3 linked regions of the Homo sapiens genome follow. The protein of the gene in region 1 interacts with the protein of each later gene in a biochemical or structural test. Each region holds a gene or a part of one and is shown in the gene's direction. Other genes may lie near its edges. The genes, in order: DAPK1, DENND1C and FBXW11.

Evidence for each region.
Region 2: the proteins of DAPK1 (region 1) and DENND1C form a complex in vitro, tested with the Homo sapiens proteins (one large-scale study listed by BioGRID and IntAct).
Region 3: the proteins of DAPK1 (region 1) and FBXW11 form a complex in vitro, tested with the Homo sapiens proteins (one large-scale study listed by BioGRID and IntAct).

What each region holds. Positions count from the first base shown.
Region 1 is NC_000009.12:87,706,364-87,709,156, forward strand, and holds the end of DAPK1 (death-associated protein kinase 1), read left to right. Parts: coding exon 1-1,001; 3' UTR 1,002-2,271; downstream 2,272-2,793. UniProt on the Homo sapiens protein: Calcium/calmodulin-dependent serine/threonine kinase involved in multiple cellular signaling pathways that trigger cell survival, apoptosis, and autophagy.
Region 2 is NC_000019.10:6,479,596-6,483,354, reverse strand, and holds the start of DENND1C (DENN domain-containing protein 1C), read left to right. Parts: upstream 1-1,567; 5' UTR 1,568-1,659; coding exon 1,660-1,676; exon of another isoform or gene 1,677-2,875; coding exon of another isoform or gene 2,876-3,303; coding exon 3,304-3,368; intron 3,369-3,452; coding exon 3,453-3,496; intron 3,497-3,636; coding exon 3,637-3,686; intron 3,687-3,759.
Region 3 is NC_000005.10:171,860,986-171,863,734, reverse strand, and holds the end of FBXW11 (F-box/WD repeat-containing protein 11), read left to right. Parts: 3' UTR 1-2,186; downstream 2,187-2,749.

The sequences.
Region 1 (2,793 bases):
GGACCATGGTGGACGTCCCAGCCCTGATCAAGACAGACAACCTGCACCGCTCCTGGGCTGATGAGGAGGACGAGGTGATGGTGTATGGTGGCGTGCGCATCGTGCCCGTGGAACACCTCACCCCCTTCCCATGTGGCATCTTTCACAAGGTCCAGGTGAACCTGTGCCGGTGGATCCACCAGCAAAGCACAGAGGGCGACGCGGACATCCGCCTGTGGGTGAATGGCTGCAAGCTGGCCAACCGTGGGGCCGAGCTGCTGGTGCTGCTGGTCAACCACGGCCAGGGCATTGAGGTCCAGGTCCGCGGCCTGGAGACGGAGAAGATCAAGTGCTGCCTGCTGCTGGACTCGGTGTGCAGCACCATTGAGAACGTCATGGCCACCACGCTGCCAGGGCTCCTGACCGTGAAGCATTACCTGAGCCCCCAGCAGCTGCGGGAGCACCATGAGCCCGTCATGATCTACCAGCCACGGGACTTCTTCCGGGCACAGACTCTGAAGGAAACCTCACTGACCAACACCATGGGGGGGTACAAGGAAAGCTTCAGCAGCATCATGTGCTTCGGGTGTCACGACGTCTACTCACAGGCCAGCCTCGGCATGGACATCCATGCATCAGACCTGAACCTCCTCACTCGGAGGAAACTGAGTCGCCTGCTGGACCCGCCCGACCCCCTGGGGAAGGACTGGTGCCTTCTCGCCATGAACTTAGGCCTCCCTGACCTCGTGGCAAAGTACAACACCAGTAACGGGGCTCCCAAGGATTTCCTCCCCAGCCCCCTCCACGCCCTGCTGCGGGAATGGACCACCTACCCTGAGAGCACAGTGGGCACCCTCATGTCCAAACTGAGGGAGCTGGGTCGCCGGGATGCCGCAGACTTTTTGCTGAAGGCATCCTCTGTGTTCAAAATCAACCTGGATGGCAATGGCCAGGAGGCCTATGCCTCGAGCTGCAACAGCGGCACCTCTTACAATTCCATTAGCTCTGTTGTATCCCGGTGAGGGCAGCCTCTGGCTTGGGCAGGGTCTGTTTGGACTGCAGAAGCAAGGGGGTGATGTAGCCCATCCTTCCCTTTGGAGATGCTGAGGGTGTTTCTTCCTGCACCCACAGCCAGGGGGATGCCACTCCTCCCTCCGGCTTGACCTGTTTCTCTGCCGCTACCTCCCTCCCCGTCTCATTCCGTTGTCTGTGGATGGTCATTGCAGTTTAAGAGCAGAACAGATCTTTTACTTTGGCCGCTTGAAAAGCTAGTGTACCTCCTCTCAGTGTTTTGGACTCCATCTCTCATCCTCCAGTACCTTGCTTCTTACTGATAATTTTGCTGGAATTCCTAACTTTTCAATGACATTTTTTTTAACTACTATATTGATTGTCCTTTAAAAAAGAAAAGTGCATATTTATCCAAAATGTGTATTTCTTATACGCTTTTCTTTGTTATACCATTTCCTCAGCTTATCTCTTTTATATTTGTAGGAGAAACTCCCATGTATGGAATCCCACTGTATGATTTATAAACAGACAATATGTGAGTGCCTTTTGCAGAAGAGGGTGTGTTTGAAATCATCGGAGTCAGCCAGGAGCTGTCACCAAGGAAACGCTACCTCTCTGTCCCTTGCTGTATGCTGATCATCGCCAGAGGTGCTTCACCCTGAGTTTTGTTTTGTATTGTTTTCTGACAGTTTTTCTGTTTTGTTTGGCAAGGAAAGGGGAGAAGGGAATCCTCCTCCAGGGTGATTTTATGATCAGTGTTGTTGCTCTAGGAAGACATTTTTCCGTTTGCTTTTGTTCCAATGTCAATGTGAACGTCCACATGAAACCTACACACTGTCATGCTTCATCATTCCCTCTCATCTCAGGTAGAAGGTTGACACAGTTGTAGGGTTACAGAGACCTATGTAAGAATTCAGAAGACCCCTGACTCATCATTTGTGGCAGTCCCTTATAATTGGTGCATAGCAGATGGTTTCCACATTTAGATCCTGGTTTCATAACTTCCTGTACTTGAAGTCTAAAAGCAGAAAATAAAGGAAGCAAGTTTTCTTCCATGATTTTAAATTGTGATCGAGTTTTAAATTGATAGGAGGGAACATGTCCTAATTCTTCTGTCCTGAGAAGCATGTAATGTTAATGTTATATCATATGTATATATATATATGCACTATGTATATACATATATATTAATACTGGTATTTTTACTTAATCTATAAAATGTCGTTAAAAAGTTGTTTGTTTTTTTCTTTTTTTATAAATAAACTGTTGCTCGTTGCATTAGTTTTTTTGATCTTTAATTCAAAAGGATTTCTTTTTACTTGTTGTGGTTTTACTGTTGTCACCCCACATAGCAGGACAACCCAGTCCAAAACCTAGAAAATCATTACACCTCAACTCTCAGGGTTATTGAGATGCCGATTATTACTCAAATTAGGAATGGTGTGGGAAAGTGAAAAGAGTTCAGATAATTTTCACATTTCTTCCCATTGTAAATAAAACAGGCCCCTTAGATTTTTCTCGGGTGAACCAAAAAACCAAACTGACTCTTTTAGTTTTGGCAACAGGGAACAGAGGAAGCTTTGCGACTTCTACACAAAAATGATGGGGATGGCACCAGGAGGAAGAGAAAACCTACAGCAAAAAGACCTTCGTGCCTTTCTTACATTTATAGTTCATTTATGTTTCAAGCAAGTTGTCCACAATAAACATGATTAACTTTCATAATGAGAAAAGAAGTCCTGATGAATAAAATTAAAACTAGACATAGGTGTGTCTACAAAGGATGAGACTGAAAGGGAAACT
Region 2 (3,759 bases), on another chromosome or scaffold:
TACTTGAGCTATGTCTGTGCTGTGTTTCCATCTATCTGGGTCTATTTCTCTGTTATTCTGTTTGTATCAATGGCTGTGGTCTCTGTGTAACTGTTTATTGTGTCTCTGTCTGTCTCTGCATTTGTTTGTTTGTTTGTTTGCTTTGTTTTTGTTTTTGTTTTTGAGATGGAGTCTCACTCTTTCACCCAGGCTGGAGTGCAGTGGCACGATCTCGGCTCACTGCAACCTCTGCCTCCCGGATTCAAGTGATTCTCCTGCTTCAGCCTCCCAAGCAGCTGGGATTACAGGCACATGCCACCATGCCCAGCTAATTTTTTGTTTGTTTGTTTGTTTTTGATTTTTTGAGACAGAGTCCTGCTCTGTCGCCCAGGCTAGAGTACAGCGGCGCGATATCGGCTCACTGCAAACTCCGCCTCCCAGGTTCAAATAATTCTGCCTCAGCCTCCTGAGTAACTGGGATTACAGATGCCCACCACCGTGCCTGGCTAATCTTTGTATTTTTAGTAGAGACTGGGTTTCACCATCTTGGCCAGGCTGGTCTCGAACTCCTGACCTCGTGATCCACCTGCCTCAGCCTCCCAAAGTGCTGGGATTACAGATGTGAGCCACCGCACCTGGCCTGTATTTTTTTTTAATTAGAGACAGGGTTTCACCATGTTGGCCAGGCTGGTTGCAAACTCCTGACCTCAAGTGATCCGCTTACCTTGTCTTTCTGCGCACAATGGGTGTGTAACTGTGACTAAGTTGTTTTTTTTTTTTTTTGAGACAGGATCTCACTTTGTTGCTCAGGCTGGAGTACAGTAGTGCAATCTTGGTTCACTATGGCCTCAAACTCCCCAGGCTCAGGCGATCCTCCTGACTCAGCCTCCTGGGTAAGCTGGGACTATAGGTGCGTGCCACCACCGCCAGCTATAATTTTTGTAGCTTTTATAGACACAGGGTTTCGCCATGTTTCCCAGGCTGGTCTCGAACTCCTGGGCTCAAGCGGTCCTCCCACCTTGGCCTCTCAAAGTGCTGGGATTATAGGCGTGAGCCACTGTGCCCGGCCTGGGACTATGATCCAGCTGTAGGACTCCCTATCTCTCCATGTCTGTCGTCTCTGGCTCTTCTGCACTCGGTTTGTCTGTGCTGATGACTTCCTGAGCGTGTAACTGTCTGTGTCTGTGTCTGTCTGTCCGTCCCTGTGCCTGTACTTCGTGCTCTTTGTCCCCATCCCTGGCCCCCCCACCGTCCACTTTACAGGTGGCTCCCTCTGGTGGTCCACCAGTGACCGTCCAGGCCAAATGGACCAAGGGAAAGAGACGGGGAGGCATTTCATTAATAGACAGACTGTGAATCTTGGCTGCTGCGGAGCGGGGAAGGAGAGATGAGGGCCCAGGCACGATGGGGGGAACCAGACACAGTCCAGCCTGGCGGGGACGGAGCTGGGGGTCTGCCTTCCCAGGCTGACCACTTATTGCCCACCCATCCCCAACATAATTAGCAGGCAGGATGCCTGGGTTTCTCACGGGGGTGGGGGCAGGGCCTCTGTCCGGGGACGTCACCCGTTAAACTTCCTCTCTCAGCCACACAGGAAGCTGAGCCGGCTTGGGGCCCAGCATACACAGGCCCCCAGGACCCCTGGGGAGAGGGCCCCGCTGGGCTGGCCCTGCAGGGACCATGGAATCCAGAGCTGAGTAAGAGCCACCCCATCCCTCATTCTCTGGTACAAGATTCCCGGGCCAGGCCTGAGCCGGGGCAGAGGGGAGCTGGGGCTGGAGCAGGCCCGGGAGGTGCAGTGACCTGCCAGGGCAGGTGGCTGGAATCAGATACTCCATGGGCCTCCGCTATGACCTTCACTCTGGGACAGGCCACTCTCGGTCCCCTCCTCTCTCTCTCTCTCTCTCTCTCTATCCAGCTCCTGTGATTATGTCTATAGCTCTGTGAATGCATGTACCCCTCTGAGCTTTGTCCTTGGTATGTCTGAGTGATGGCTTCAGGGGGTCCACAGGGCGGATGATCAGGGCAGAGGGGAGGCTGGGTGTTGGTATGAGTGGGTGATCGTGTGTGACTTGTGTCGGCGTGAGGGTGAAGTGCTGGGGTACCCATGGTGGGGACTGTGTGTGCAACTGGGCGGGACAGTGTGTGTGCAGCTGATCTCCCTCTAGATCTCCCTGTCTCTCTCCTTGAGCCCAAGGCTGCCTCTTCTGCTTGATATGGGGGCAGAGGAGGAAAGCAGAGATTGCAGGGCTTACAGTAAGTACCTAGGTATCCTGCCCTCCTTTCTCTGATGAGACATGTGGGACCAGCCACGAGGGTTCTATGGGGTCTCACACACAGAGACACACAGCCAGCCCACAAGGATCCCACGCGGTTACCCAGTGACACTCACAGCTGTACAGGAAAATATAGATGTCATTCACTTGCTCGGGCACACACACTCACATCTATACAAGAAAATATAGATGGCATGGCTAGATGCAGTGACTCAAGCCTGTAATCCCAGCAATTTGGGAGGCTGAGGCGGGCAGATCACCTGAGGTCAGGAGTTTGAGAACAGCCTGGCCAGTATGTGAAACCCTGTCTCTACTAAAAATATGAAAATTAGCTGGGCGTGGTGGCGGGCACCTGTAATCCCAGCTACAGGGAGGCTGAGGCAGGAGAATCGCTTGAACCTGTGGGGTGGAGGTTGCAGTGAGCCAAGATCGTGCCACTGTACTCCAGCCTGGGTGACAAAGCAAAACTCCATCTCAAAAAAATAGATAGATAGATAGATAGATAGATAGATAGATAGATAGATAGATAGATAGATAGGTGGGTGGGTGGATGGATAGGTGGGTGGGTGGGTGGATGGATGGATGGATGGATAGACAGAGACAGACAGACAGACAGATAGATGGATATATATATAGAGAGAGAGAGATGTAATTCACTTAGCTTGGGACTGCACGGGCTGTCCTTCATATCTGTGCAGTCTCATGCCACAGATATAGGAGACAGTCTCATCTTTTCAGGCAGACAGCAGACAGGATCACACACACACTGCCTGCTCACAAAAGCCATGCACTCAGCCACACACAATCATACACAGCCACACACACACAGTCACACTTTCTCACTCCATCCTGTACTTGTGTGTTCAATTAACACTGCTGCACACACAGCCTCACACAACCACACACTCACAGCCACAAACCCCCAGAGTCATGCACATGCCGACGCACCTTGTGGCACATGCACACACAACCACACTTGTGTGCAAAGTGGCAGACACAACCACACATGCATAGAAGCAAGTCTCTGGACCCCTTCTGCATCCCACAGAGGGGGCTCCCCTGCTGTGTTTGATTGGTTCTTCGAAGCGGCCTGCCCTGCCTCCCTGCAGGAGGGTGAGTTGGGAGCCTGGGAGTGAGGGAGTGGGAGGGGAGGGTGGGCCTGGGTCGCTGAACTTAGAGGCGTGCTCTCTTCTACAGATCCCCCCATCCTGCGGCAGTTCCCTCCAGACTTCAGGGACCAGGTATTCAGGCTGGCTCCTTGCTCCCCCAGGGCGAGGGCCAGTCTCCCAGGGGGAGGGGACTTGGTTTCTTGGACCTGGAGCCCAGGGAGGTGGTGCCCGACCTCAGTGGCCAAGCAGTCTGCGCTTTTCTTCACCTCCAGGAAGCTATGCAGATGGTGCCTAAATTCTGCTTCCCTTTTGATGTGGAAAGGTACGGAAGGGCGGGGAGATCCAAGGACTCAGGGACTCAGATCTCTCAGGGGCCCCAAGGACTCAACACCTAG
Region 3 (2,749 bases), on another chromosome or scaffold:
ACAGCATTCTTCTTCAGTGAAATTTTGGGTGCCAAACACCTACCCAGAATGTCCAGGGCTTTCATTTTCAAAAGTTAGCATTCTCCTTTTGACCGTCCAAGTCATTATGAATTCTGACTTGTTGTATTAGGAACATGTTGGACAGTGGAAAATTTTCTCTGGATTGTTTTAGTAATATTTTTGGGATTATACTTCCTTTCTGTACCAATTTCTTTTAATTTAAAGAACTATAAGTCAGTTATATTATCTACCAACAGGTAATATAGCTCTTTCTTTTATTAACTGTTCTCTGTCCCCCAACCATCTCCTGATATTTGGTAGAGTAACACCTTTATACGTGTGCTTGCCTCCTAATTTAAAATACTGTATTCGCATGTAGATATAATGTACATAACAGTTTAACCTCAAAGTTGCTGGAGTCAGGGCCCCCTGTGCTTGAGACACTAATACAGAGTGTGTTCGCACTTAGCCATGGGCTGGGCTCAAGAACCTGATACCTGGGTTGATGTGGATTACCTAGAACCCTTCCTGCAGTATTCATACAGTGTTTTTATTTTGTTGTTGTCATTGCGTGTGTGTGGTTTGTGTGTGTTTTTAATGAGAATCTTGTTTTAAAATGTAATTTCTAAGGTTTAACACCAAAATGTTTTATTTGTTGTGGAGTATATATTATACAATAGAGAGGTACCTTAAACATTTTTTGTTCTTATTCTTTTTCTCATAAGTACTCCTGAGTACAAGTGGTCACCTCCCATAGTATTCATTTGGCTTCGCTGTCAAAAATCATTATTCTGTGCAGTCGTGGCCCTGGGAAGGGGAAATAAGAAGGCCCTGTTGACGGGCTGTCTTGGCTCTGGAATTCATGCATCCTGGCCTTGCCAAGGTTCTGGCAGGGCCTGCTGGTGTGTTGGAGCCTGCAGGGCAGGTCAGGCTGGTTCAGAGGCCCATGCTGAGGGGTGGGTGCTCTGAAGTGGAGTGAAGCCTCAAGCCCATGAATGCCACCCCAGTCATCTCTGGTGTCAGCTGCTGCTGTGGCCCCAGCAGGTTCTCAAAGCTCCCAAGTCCTCCCTACGACACAGCCCAAATGTGTAAATGGCACTGTTGCCCTGACAGTGCATGGAAAGGACGTTGGCATCCAATTGGCACTCCTTCTCCCTTATTCAATATTAGGTTTGATTTGCCCTTCGCCATTGTTTCCAAAGATCAAGGAATGTCAATAACATTTTAAAGGACCAATAAACAGCCTCCTATAAAGTAAACCTCTTCCCGTGGAAGCACACTCTACTACTAAAGGGAAGGCCCTGGGCTCTGATTTGTCCTTTGCATTGAGAACGGTGTGGGGATCAGTGTGTGTGTATGTGATTTGTTTATTGAGTTGGCTTTGCTTTTTTAGTTTTTCTTTTAAAAATAAAATCCTTCCTTCCCATGTTACTAAATTAATTTATGTTTTTGAGAGGTTGAGTCTCAAAGTGTAAACAATAAACCTCCATTCATAAGGTGGATGTTGTAAGCTTGATGGTGGTTGTGAAAGTGATTTAGCTTTGACCACTTTTCATCCTACAGCTTCAATATCAAACTGGTTAGGAAAGCCCAGGGGGAAGGGAGGGGGCAGGGGAGGAGGCAATTCTGAATGAATGAATGGATTTTTTGTTGTTTTTGCATGTTTAATATAGAAGTTCCCCTCGTTCCTTGGGAGATGATGGCCTTTGAATATGCAGACAACCTTTGAATTGTGCCTACTAAATTATAGCAGGGGACTTTGGCACCCAAGGAGTTCTGACTTTCTGGGATTATAATAGTAATTCCCAGCCATACTCTGGACTTTATTTTGCTAACCATAACTGAGCAAATGTAAATTACTGCTATATTAATGTTTTAAAGCACTGGGATAGTCTAATTCTAACTTGTAATTAATTATGTTTGCCAATTATCTGTTTGAAATAAATTTGTGTCTGAACAGCTATTGAAACTGTTAAATTGTACAGATATTATTCATGACAGCTTTGTACTGTGGAATGTGCTTAATAAAAAACAAAAAAGTTTGACTTTTGTCCAGTAAATTGCTAAGTAATGTCAATAAATCGAGTATGGGTATTATGCAGTGCACCTAATCTGGCTTCATGCAATTGTTACTTCAGCTACTGATTCAAAGCCAATACTCTTAATAAAGTGTTGCAATACTCTGACGTTCTGTTAAGAAATTTTTCAAAGAAACTGTTAAGTGCTGTTAGGAATTCAGTGACATACAATTAAAATTTATAGATCTTTAGAATCATCTGTTCTGTAAAATGAGTTTGAAGGCAAACTGGTTTTGGCGTGTGAGAATGTTGTAGTAGATGATATGATTCCTTGTCTTGGGCTTTTGCCGAAAGCTAGCTTGAACTTCAGGAGTTAGCTGAGGGCTAGCTAAGAACTCTTGCCCTGCAAATCTGCTTCCCACACATAATTAATTGCTTCACAAGTTACTGTCAACATGAAAATGGCCTCTGAGACATCCCAAGTGGCTTTCAGGTGTGAGTGGATCCTCCCCTTCTTGAAGAAGGGCCATGGAGGTGTGAGGGGCAGTTTCGCAGCCCTCTCCACCATAGCATCAGAAATGAATAGTTTTGTGTGTGCAAGTGTGTCACTGGTAGAGTATTGAAGCAGAAAAAGTCGAGTTAGTATCTGTAGGATTCTACTCAGAAATTCTATTCAGTAGGACTGAGTAGAAGCTGAGTTTTTTTGATAGCTAGGCTAAACTTCCCCCATT